2 separate regions of the Homo sapiens genome follow, and region 2 is linked to region 1. A link means that fine-mapping ties the variant in region 1 to the expression of a gene that starts in the linked region. Tissue or cell type: whole blood. Region 1 holds a variant in brackets; the other region holds the start of a gene. All regions are shown on one strand. Distances are from middle to middle.

Evidence for each region. PIP is the estimated chance that this variant, and not a neighbour inherited with it, causes the effect.
Region 2: it holds the start of SAMD3, and the variant in region 1 is fine-mapped to the expression of SAMD3 in whole blood (INTERVAL, PIP above 0.99).

Annotation. Positions count from the first base shown.
Region 1 is chr6:130,155,369-130,161,695 of GRCh38, forward strand. The region is part of intron 8 of SAMD3 (sterile alpha motif domain containing 3); the gene reads right to left. Among named protein-coding and RNA genes, the nearest start is that of SAMD3, 64 kb to the right of the region's middle. The variant CA/C (reference allele first, on the strand shown) is at 2,577.
Region 2 is chr6:130,219,761-130,226,087 of GRCh38, forward strand. It overlaps SAMD3 (sterile alpha motif domain containing 3), which reads right to left and starts at 3,191. Exons shown (of 12, transcript NM_001017373.4): 1 at 2,934-3,191. RefSeq lists an enhancer at 3,798-3,907.

The sequences.
Region 1 (6,327 bases):
AGATATTTTTAAAAGTATTAAGGTTTTGTTATTACTATTATCTTTTTTCTTTTTAAATGCCTTTTTATAGCTGCAGTACCATGCCATATAATCCAAATTCAAAATAATAACAGTGGTTATTTTCTGATGCTAAATCATTAAACTAATAATTTTATTCACTATACAACTGGGTACGTTGGGCGGAGTGGGGGCAGCTAAGAAACACCTCACTTATTCTTGTTGAAAATCTAAGACAATCAGCTTTGAGGAAATAAGAAAAATATCTTTCTAGAAATATGAGTTAAGAGGACAGTCAGCTGAACTGCATGCAAATCAAAGTTGATCAACTGTCTAGCTGACCAGAATGTGAACAGATGATACCTATAAAAGACGAAAAAGGTGATAAGGAATCTACAATCCTCTTATATCAAGGCTTTTACAAGCACATAGGAAAGCCTCAGTAGATCTACTTTCTGTGAACACAGAATGACTAACAAGACCTAAACCAAGTGAAGGAACGCCTAGAAAAATAAAATTATCAAAATTAAGAAGAAGTTCCTATAATCTTATACAAATTTAGTTGGAAGATAAAAGTCTTTCCACAAAGAAAATACCAAGAAAGACTTGAGGGTTTTACAGACAAAATCTACTTAACTTTTGAAACAGAGTGTTCAAATTTATGCAAAATTTTTCAAGAAAAAGGAAAGGAGGCCAGGCATGGTGGCTCACACCTGTAATCCCAGCACTTTGGAAGGACGAGTCAGGAGGATCACCTAAAGCCAGGAGTTCAAGACCAGCCTAGCCAACATAGCGAAACCCCACCTCTACTAAAAATACAAAAATTAGCCGACACAGTAGCATGCACCTGTAATCCCAGCTACTTGGGAGGCTGAGGCATGAGAATTGCTTGAACCGGGAAGCAGAGCCGAGATCACACCACTGCACTGCAACCTGGGAGACAGAGCAAGACTGTCTCAAAAAAAAAGAAAAGAAAAAAAAGGAATACTCTCTAACCCATCCTTTGAAGCCTCTATGACACTGATCCCCAAACCTGAAAGAACAGTGTAAGAAAGGAAAAGTGCAGTCACTCTCGTTCATGAACAAAGTTGCAGATATTAGAAACAAGGAACAACTAACTTGAATTTATTATACCTCAGAAACTCAAGGGTAGTTTGACATTGGTAAGGGAACTATAGCAAATTAAAAGAAAACATGATTGATTTACCCATTACGTTTCACATACTATCATACTAAAATCTCAGTTTGGGGGCCACTGTTATAGAAAGATTCGGGGCAGAAAAGAGGTAGGTTTTGAGAAACGTGGTGTATGAACAGTATGATTGTTGGGCACAGCAGCTCACACCCAGTAATCCCAATACTTTGGGAGGCTGAGGCTGAGGGTTACTTGAGGCCAGGAGTTTGAGAGAAGCCAGGGCAACATAGCAAGGCTCTATCTCTACAAAAACAATAATAAATGTTGGGAGGCCGAGGCGGGTGGATCACCTTAGGTCAGGAGTTTGAGACCAGCCTGGCTAACATGGTGAAACCCTGTCTCTACTAAAAATACAAAAAAGTAGCCAGGTGTGGTGGCACATTCCTGTAATCCCAGCTACCCGGGGGACTGAGACAGGAGAATCGTTTGAACCTGGGGGACAGAGGTTGTGGTGAGCCAAGATGGTGCCACTGTGCTCCAGCCTAGGCAACAGAGTGAGACTCCGTCTCAAAAAATAAATAAATAAATAAATAAATAAATAAATAAATAAATAAATAATAAAATTACAACAGTTCCATAATTTTACTTGGATTATCTAAACATGTGTAAACGTCATATACTGCATTAATTAACTAATTAAAGATGAAAAAACATGACCATTTCAAATAACGCAGAAAAAGTATCTTATAATATCCCTCTATGATTAAAGAAAAAAACTTTTGTCAAAATAAGAGAAATTTTCAAAACCTATAAAGTTATATACCAAAAACCTAGAGCTAACATATTTTTTTTTTTTGAGACAAGGTCTCACTCTGTCACCCAGGCTGAAGTGCAGTGGCGTGATCACAGCTCAGTGCAGCCTCAAACTTCCAGGCACAAGTGATCAACTGTCCCAACAGATGGGCCTACAGGGCCATGCCACCACATCTGGTTAATTTTTGTATTTTTTGTAGAGACAGGTCTTGCCATGTTGCCCAGGCTGGTCTTGAACCCCTGGGCTTAAGTGATCTGCTACCTTGGCCTCCCAAATTGTTGGGATTACAGGCATGAGCCACCACGCCTGACAGATATGATTTTTAATGGTGAAATTTTAAAAGAATAATCTTTAAAATCAGAAGCAACACAAAGGTGCTTTATTAAACTCTTACTCAGCCTATACTGAAATTCTAGTCAGAGTAGTAAGACAGGAAAATAAAAGGTATAAAAATTGAAAAGATAGAAACGAAATTGTCAATATTCATAGATGATGTGATTGTTCAAGAGAAAACTTAAAATCATGCATATGTAATTTGTTACAGCTGAGTTTTTCAGAGCAACTGAATACAAGATAAATATTCTAACATACGCTAACATAGAAAATACAATTTTTTACAATTATATTTTG[CA/C]AAAAAAAAAAATTAAATTGCAAAAAAAACCTTATAAGATACCTAGGAATAAAACTAACAAAAAATGTGGAAGACTTTTAAGAAAATTATGAAACTATAAAATATTAATGAGACTTAAATAAATGGATAGCCTATTATGTTCACAGCTAGCAAGATTCAATATTGTAAGAAAGTCATCTTTCTCCAAGTAGAGCTGCTGATTCAATATTTCTGTCAAAATCCCAAACCTATCAAAAACCACAATTTTTTTTATCAGAACTTGACTAGCTGATTCTAAAACTCATTTGAAAGATTAAAAACCTCAAGAATGACCAAGGCATTCTTAAAGAATAATAAAGCAGTGATGGGAAAGTATCAAGACATTTTACAGCTATGTAAGTAAGGAAGTTGGTATTGATGCAGGGATAGATGACTTTACTAGCGGAAAACAGCAGAGCTTCTAGACACAGAGCCATGGAAACAACAGAGATGGCATCACGAATCTGAGGAAGAGAATGACTATTTTCTGAAAGGTGCAAGAAAATTTTCTATCCATAAGGAAAAAAAAAATCCCATATGGCTTAAGAAGTTAAATTTTAAGAGCAAAAACTTAAAAAAATTTAAAGAAAATATAGAAATATTTCTTATCACTTCAAGGTAAGAAAGGATTTCCTAAAAGTGTTACCAGTGGAGGGCCTTGACTACAAGTTGTCCAGGTTCTTGGCGTTTTGAACAAAGAATTGGAAGAAATGCACAACAAAGCCATGAAATAAAGAAGCAACAAAAATCAGATTTATTGAAACAAAAGTATACTCCACAGAGTGGGAGCGGGCTCAAGCTGGCTGCTCAAGAGAATTTTCTGGGTTTTAAATAGCCTCTAGTGGTTTCCCACTGGTGACTCGGTTTACACCCTATGTAAATACAGGAGAGGCCCACGACCAGTCTGATTGGTTGTGGAAGGTGACCAATCAGTGGCTGAAGTTACAAAATTACACTCTATGCAAATGTCTGATTGGTTGTGGGAAGGGACCAGAGGCTGAAGTGAAGTAGTGAAGTAACAAAGTTATATCCCAATGCAAATGAAGACTAGGCCTGCTACCAGTCTGACTGGTTGCAAGAGGGGACCAATCAGAGGTTGATATGGTTTGGCTCTGTGTCCCCACCCAAATCTCATCTTGTAGCTCCCATAATTCCCACCTGTTGTGGGAAGGACCAGTTGGGAGATGATTGAATCATGGGGGCAAGTCTTTCTCATGCTGTTCTCATGGTAGTGAATGGGTCTCACAAGATCCAATGGTTTTAAAAACGGGAGTTTCTCTGCACAAGCTCTCTGTTTGCCTGTTGCCATCCACAGAAGATGTGACTTTCTCCTCCTTGCCTTCTGACATAATTGTGAGGCCTCCCCAGTCATGTGTAACTGTAAGTTCAATAAGCCTCTTTATTTTGTAAATTGCCCGGTCTCAGGTATGTCTTTATCAGCAGTGTGAAAACAGACTAATACAGAGGTACTTTCCATTTTTCATCTGCCACACAGAGGCGGGTGGGAGATTGCAAAGGGAGTAGCCTCTGGTCCTTTTGTTACCTGGGCATGAAAAGTTGGGGTTTTCCTTTTGATTCAGTTCGAGGAAGTTGGTGCAAATTGGCCTTAGGCTTCCTGCCTTCAGACCCTATTCTCCTGCCTCAGAAGCACTGATCATAAGACAAATGATTGATAACTCTAACTACATTAAAATTGCAACCTTGTCTTTCCTTGTCAAAAGACACCAGAAAGAAATTTAAAAGGCAAGGCACAAACTGTGAGAAGATATTGGGAACAAATATAATTAGTAAAGGAGTAGAATACAGAATATACAAAGGATTTTTACAAGTAAATTGAAAAAAAGGCAGCCTCATAGAAAAATAAGCAAAAGACATGAACAGACACTTTACAGAGGAGGAAACATGAATATTTCATAAACATATGAAAAGATGATCACCCTCATACATAACTAAAATGGAAGCCAAACACAGTACCATTGTATTCCCAATAGATTGGAAGTGGGGTGGTGGCATTGCATGGGGGTGGGGTGAGTGGAAAAGAAATCAGATGATTAACGAGTGCTGCTCAGGGAGCTTAATCATCCAGGAAAATAATTTGGCACTGTCTTACAGAGTTGAATATCTGCACACCCTGTGAGCCAGTGAGCCAGCAAATCCACTCCTAAGTATAAATCCTTGAAAAAAATCTTCACATATGCTTCAAGACACACATACAAGAATAATCACAGCAGCATAGTTCATAACAGCCAACACTGGAAACAAATCAAATATCCGTTAAGAAGAGAAGAGCCAAATAAACTGGTTGCCTGTCACAATAGATTAAACCAACAGGAAAACGAATAAACTACACTCAACTGAACAACCTGGATGAATTCCAGTGACATTACATTGATTGAAAAAAAGGAACTTATCAAAGCCAACATATAGTTTTCATATCATTTTGTAAACCTTAAAAACAAGCAAAACTAGAATTTGTTTTAGGCTGGGGTAGTGAAGGAAAATTCGTGGAAGATGAGGAACTGATCAGATTTTAAGGGATAATAGAATTTGAAAGAAGAAAGGACAGTTCTGGGTGGAGAGACAGGAAGGGCAGAGCATGTTACGGGAATGTTTAGCAGAGCAAATCTGAAGATTGTGGAAAACCATAGACGGCCAGGGTTTAAAGCTGGGACTTAAAGGCGATGAAATCTTTTAATTGAGGTTGGAAGAATAGCTAGGAAACTTGTGAATGCAGAGATAGAGATTTGATATTTCTTTTAAATTATCTAGATTTAGATATATAGAAAGGGAGAAAATTATAGGAGCAGGAGAACCAGGATAATGGATTGTCAACGAAGCCAAGGAGTTTCAAATGTAAAATGTGGAAGGTGGTGAAAAGAAAAATAAAAATCTTTAAGCTTCAGATATGTCAGATCTTCATTTACTTTCAAGCTTTGTTTGTATATGTTTTAAACTGTTGAACATAAAAATGGACTACAGAGGATTTATTCAAATAAAATATGTGCTTGAAAAAAAAACAAGCAAAACTAAGCAATATATCCCTTAAGAATTCATGCATATGTGACAATGTCATTTATTTTTAAAACAGGTGAATGATAAACATAAAATTCAGAATAGTGATTAGTTCTAGAGGCCTGTGGTGTTGGAAAGGCAGGTGACAGGAGAGGGGAGGAAAACTCAGGCACACACAATGGTGCAGGCAGTGTTCTAGTTCTAAAGTTAAATGCTGAGTTAACAGTGTTTATTTTGTCTCATAAACTACATATATGTTACGTATGTAGTTTTTCTTCTGTATGTCTCAAATGCATAGAATGACAATTTCTTAAGTAAGAAAACATTTTAATTTTTTAAAGTACAGAAAAAATGTTTTAATTATCTAAATGGCTTTCTTTCATCTACTGAAATATAGTAGAAGTTATATAATTGCTGATATTGACATTTAGATATTACTGTATTTATAATGTACTACTTCCTCCAAAACTCTTACCCAATCATGAAAATAAAGTTTCTAGATAACTTCCACCTGATCAGACTGATGGGATTAACACAGTGTTGGTGGGTTGTATTCTAGACTGAAGTGATTTTCCTAATTATTAAAAAGCTACATCAGAATTTAAAATTCTCACCATTTTAATGATTTACATATTGTTAGATTTATATATTGTTAGATATACTGTTAATGATTTATATATTATTAAAGCTGGAAAGAACTTAGAAACCACCTAGTCCATG
Region 2 (6,327 bases), 64 kb after region 1:
TTTGCAATTGAGAATTGTGCTGAAACAGCCGTTTTTGCACATACAAGAATTCAAGATCAGTAATTTCCTATGGCTTAAGTTATTAAAATCTTACTTTTATAAAAATTAGTGTCTCCATTGGTTCTTTTTATCTAGCAAGACTTATCAGAGTTGTCTGTAATTCACAACACCTCCAATAAATTTGAAGGAAAAAGTGGTGAGCACAGTCATAGTAACTTAAATTTCATATGTTTACATTTTTTTCTTTTTCTATTTTTTTGAGATGGAGTCTCGCTCTGTCATCCAGACTGGAGTGCAGTGGCACTATCTCGGCTCATTGCAACCTCCACCTCCCGGATTCAAGCCATTCTTTTGCCTCAGCCTCCTGAGTAGCTGGGATTACAGACGCGTGCCACCATGCCAGGCTAATTTTTGTATATTTAGTGGAAATGGGGTTTCACCATGTTGGCCAGGTTGGTCTCGAACTGCTGAGCTTGTGATCCACCTGCCTCGGCCCCCCAGAGTGCTGGGATTACAGGTGTGAGCCACTAGCCTGGCCAATTTTTACATTTTCAAAGAAACTAAAGAGCCACTTATCTGGGAGGTTTAGTTAAATTAATGAACAAAAATAGCAATGAGCCAGAGTCCCAGAACTTTGGAACTTTTGAGTCACAAACACCCTAGTGTTTTGGCCTTTGAGTCAAACTTATGGTTTATCCCTGCTTCTGCCTCGTTGACAGCCAAAGCTTATGGTTCAGCAACACAGATTACAGTCCTGCCAGAGATGGTAACTGTGAACTGTGCTATTGAATTTTATGAAAAGCTGGATGTGTGACTGAGAAGTCTTGATAGTTTGAAGATGTCATTTCCCTCAGAATTAATTTATAAATTCCAATTAATATACATACGTGGTTATATGTTTTACTTACTATGAGGCTAGTTTTCATGTGGAAGAATAAATAGGTAAAAAGAACGAAAAATGCTTGACAAAAGGACTTGCACTTCCAGATGTTAAAAAATGTTATGCTATTAACAGCATGGTACTGGAGGAAAAGAGAACAGATATTGAAACAGAATAGAAACTTAGAAACAGAAACATTCATATGGAAGTACTGAAAATATCTTTTTTTTTTTTTGACAGTCTCGCTCTGTTGCCCAGGCTGGAGTGCAGTGGCACGATCTCGGCTCACTGCAAGCTCCGCCTCCCGGGTTCATGCCATTCTCCTGCCTCAACCTCCCGAGTAGCTGGGACTACGGGTGCCCACCACCACGCCCAGCTAATTTTTTTGTGTTTTTAGTAGAGACGGGGTTTCACTGTGTTAGCCAGGATGGTCTCGATCTCCTGACCTTGTGATCTGCCCACCTTGGCCTCCCAAAGTGCTGGGATTACAGGCATGAGCCACCACGCCCAGCCAGTGAAAAGATCTTTAAAATTGGTGACAAAGAAGGGATTAGTCAATATATTTTGTTGGGATAATGCCTCATAACACCTACACAATAAATTCCTCAGATAAGTTAAATATGTAAATATGAAAAATTAAAAAGAGTTTAAAATAATCTAAGATTACATAATAAAAATAAAATATTGATAGATTTGACTAAAAAGGAAAAACGCATGTGTACACATATATATCACAGTGGACCCTTGAACGACACAGGGGTTGGGACGCTGACTCTGCTATGCAGTTGAAAATTTGCAAGTAACTTTTGACTACCCCCAAACTTAACTACTAATAGCCTACTATTGATCAGAATCTTAACTGATAACATAGACAATTAACACATATTTTGTATGTTATATATATTATATACAGTACTGTTACAATAAAATGAGTTAGAGGAAAGAAAATGTTATTAAGCAAATAACAAGGAAGAGAAAACATTTACTATTTATTACATGGAAGTGGATCATCATAAAGATCTTCATACTCGTCGTCTTGCAGTGAGTAGGCTGAGGAGGAGGAGGAGGAAGAGGAGAGTTGGTCTTGCTGTCTCAGGGGTGGCAGAGGCAGAAGAAAATCTGCATGTAAGTGGACCTGAGAGGTTCCAACACATGTTGTTCAAGGGTCAACTCTATAATCCATAAAACCAACTAAAAAATTAATACACCAATAGAAAAAAATAGGAATAGGTAACTCTTGAACAAAATTTTAAACCAGTATCTGAAAAATCTACATTATTTGTAATAAAAATAATTAAATACCATCTTCATTTATTCCATTGGAAAAGGTGAAAATTAGCAAGAATGCAAGGTCAGTTGTTCTCTTACACACTGCTAAGGGGAGTATAAAGTGGCACAACTTGCCCTGTCATATTATTCCCATTTTATAATTGAAAGTCCTGGAGTTTACAGGGTAACTCGCCTAAGGTTCCTTTGCTTGTAAAGGTAAAAGTGATTTGAATCCAATCTATCCAACTTTAAAGGGTACTAATGCAAGCCAAAAACATTAAAAATATTTCTACATTCTGACCCCAAAATAGCATTTCTAAGAATGTGCCTAAAGACATTAACAGAAATGAACACAAAGATGTGTGCCATAGCAATGGTCCGAATAGCAAATAAATTGGACAGATAAAATTTCCAGCAATAGGAATTGGCCAATGAATTACAGTAATTTATATTTAAAATAAAATACTATGTAGTAATCAAAAATTGTATCTAGACAAATAACTATGTAGAGAGAAACAGTCATGGATATGGTTAACTGCAAATAAATTTAAAATAGTATGATTCAGATTTGTGGAAAGAATAAAATAAAAGTAGAATGAAATGCTTGGTTACACAAAGGCTGGGAAAGCATATACTAGAAGGCAGAAGTGGCAATCTCTGTTTGGAGGAATTAATGTTTTTTGTTTGTAATCTGCCACTCTTAAATTTTTCTCAATGAAAGAATTTTATCTTAATATCAGAAAAGTTAGAGTTTTATAGAGAAAAGGTAAAAAGTGATATTTACGGATTATTGCTGGAGAGGCTTTTGGTCCATCTCTTCCAGAAGAGAAGATCAAAGGAGAGAGCACCCCTCCTCCCCAGGCAAATCCGATCAGTGGATGTGGTTCTGGTTCCTTTGTTTTATCTGAAAAATGGAAGATATCACCTACAAATCTGGAATCTTGGTTTCTCTTGAAAAATCAAAAGTTCTGGTGATACTGGGTTCATATTTCTGAATGGCAGCAACTGAGCAGTGGCTGCCCCATTGAAAGACAGCAAGACTGGGAGCCTCACAGTACACAGGAAGCATAAGGTAAGTTTGAAACAGGGTGGATCTCAGACAGCTAACGTTTGCACCTCTCAAAGGAAGAAGATTCTGACAAGTGTGACAAATACCCATGTATGTACATACATGTTTACCATAATATATCTTTGGAACATTTAATTCTTCCTTAGTTACCTTTTTTAAGCTCCTAGAAGAAATAACACTAACTAGAAAAAAAATTTCCTATATCAATCTTAAGGCAGATATAATAATAATGTATTAGAATTTAGACATTGAATTCAAAGTCAAGGACTCAAAGCTTTGCATCTCAGAAGGTTCTAGTGTCTTGAGGCTTCATTTTCTTTGTAGCTACATCATTGAACTAAAATGCACAAACCTTTATTTAGCAGACATTGGCTGAATGTAATTCTCGTTACATAGCTCAGTGTGTACGTGATAGTGCAGGTGATAGCTGAACATTTTATAGCTCTGAGTAGTGGCAAGAACTTACATTATTAAAATATTACAACTATTTTTTTGGAGTTACTCATTTGTTAGAACACATGAAAGGTGACTTCTGTATCCACCTATATTGCTCAGCTGGTAGAGTCAAGCTGGGCTCTCTTGATCTGTTAACACTAAGTGCTGGTCTGACTTTGTAGGCCTCTTCAGGAAGAAGGGGATGCAAGGTAGTGGATCTTCTTAATGCAGTGTGACTCAAAGTGAAACTTGGAAACACCCTTGCAGGGCGTGCGATGGGTGTGACTCGCTTCTTCAGTACCCTGCAGCTCAAACCCCTAGAGGGAGCATGCAGACGGGCAGGTCATGGGGAGCATGGGCTCCTACCCCATGGCAGCACCTAGGGTTGAGTGTTTACAGCTCCAGAAGCCCCAGTGGGAGTGTGTTACAGTGCAGTCTTTCAGCTTAGCCATCCGCAGGTGGCTTGTGTTAATCAGCTCAATTAGATCCTCTGCCTTATCGCAAGGACAGAGGGCTTTCTGTATCCCAAGGTTCTTGCCTTAATGTACCAGAAAAATTGAATCACATGTAGGCTTGGAGAATGGGTGCACAGTTTTATTGACTGGTGGAAGTAGCTCTCAGCAGATGGATGGGATCCACAAGGGGAATGGAATGGGAAGGCGGTCTTCCCCTGGAGTCAGGCCGCTCAGTGGCCTGACTCTCCTCCAACCACCCCCAGGCAAATTCTACGTGGTCCACATCATACTGCTGTTGATGTCCTGCCAGTCTGTCAGTGTATTCTGCCAGTGTGTTCCTCTTGATGTCCAGCCGCTTGTGTCTGTGCCCGCTAGGGTCTCAGGGTTTTTATAGGCAGAGGATGGGGGTGTGGCGGGCCAGAGTGCTTTTGGAAAATGCAACATTTGGGCGTGAAAACAGGAGTGCCTGTTCTCACTTACGTCCATGGGTACAGGCCTGAGGGTGGAGCCCTAGCCAGGGACCCCATTCTTCTCTACCCAGCACTTCCCTGCCCGCCTCCCGTATCAAAAGCAAAGCACAGATGGGAGGTGTGGAGACACAAAAAGGCATAGGACCCTGTGTTTCTCATGAGTGACAAATGCTCATGCTTCTGCCAGCCCTAGGTTCATGTGAGGACGGGCCAGAATGTTCAAACTTTTGTTTATGCAAAAGCACTCTATTTATTTATTATTATTATTATTATTATTATTATTATTATTATTATTTTTGAGATGGAGTCTCCCTTTGTCACCCAGGCTGGAGTGTAATGGCACGATCTCAGCTCACTGCAACTTCCACCTCCTGGGTTTAAGCGATTCTCCTGCCTCAGCCTCCTGAGTATCTGGGACTACAGGCACGTGCCACCACGCCCAGCTAAGTTTTTGTATTTTTAGTAGAGATGGGGTTTCACTGTGTTAGCCAGGATGATCTCGATCTCCTGACCTCATGAACCGCCTGCCTCGGCCTCCTAAAGTGCTGAGATTACAGGCATGAGTCACCACGCCCAGCCCGAAGCACTCTTTTTAGAGTTGGCCCAAAAGGTAAAATTCATACCAATTGGTAGGCTATAGTCCATCATTAAATATGAGTCTGTGTGTCTGAATTTGTGTGTATGTGTGTGTGTTAGAGAGAGATAAAGAGAGACAGACAGAGACAGAGAGCAGTACTGAGCAAGAGAGTGAGTGAGCATGGGGAAGAAAGTAAGGAGGAGAGGAAAAGGTTATGTGAATGATTAACAAGTAAAAAATAATGTTACTGAAACACCAGGGGTTCAGTTTAGGTCCTGCTATTTGCTGCACAGAAAGCCAACGACTGAGACAACAAGTATTGCCAAGGAAGAAGGCTTTAATCAGGTGCTGCAGTCCAGGAAATGGGAGCTCAGTCTCAAATCCATCTTCCTGATCAACTAAAATTAGAGGTTTATATAGCGGGGAAGAAATGTTAAATATGTATGGGAAAACAAGAATGTGGAAGGAGTAAGGGAGCAATTACAATGAATGAGAGGCTGGTATCTCATTGTCTGGATCTGGTGAGTTTCAAGCTTTAAAACCAGAAGGATTAATTTCTATATTTAAGAAAAACTGTCTATGGGACTACTGGATCAGTTTCAGTAAGATAGGCATATTAGAAATAAAGACTGTAAGGATTATAATAGCACATAGCTTTCCTCTTTAGATTGTTCCAAGGTAAACTTATTTTTAAAAATCCTTACATTCCAATCTTAACTGCTGCCTACTCACTTCTACCATTCTTTGATTACATATGGGAACAAATGTGGCACACCAATATAAAGGTGAGAGTAGTTGGAAGAAGAGGAAAAATATTTATTCATATATTAGGTCATCCAAAAAGCTTAAGATATGAGAAAATTCAGTATTTCTATAACCAGGCCAAAAACTAACTTGTCATTTCAAACTCCTTGGCATTTGGAAGCTTGAAAAATGCTTGCCTGGGCACCTATTCCTGGTAAAGTGCTAAGGAGAGACGCCTAAGGAAATTGAGGGGTCAGCCTGATGTTGGCTTAATCCTGGCTCCATTGTCTTCTGATCACATCACCCTTCTTATCTAATTGATGTGATCACTTGTTGAGTTATCTCATCCAGTTATTCTCTTCCTGGTACAGTCTTCTATCCACTGTTGCAGAAGTATCTGCAGTAATTCAGGACAGCGCCGCTTTTCC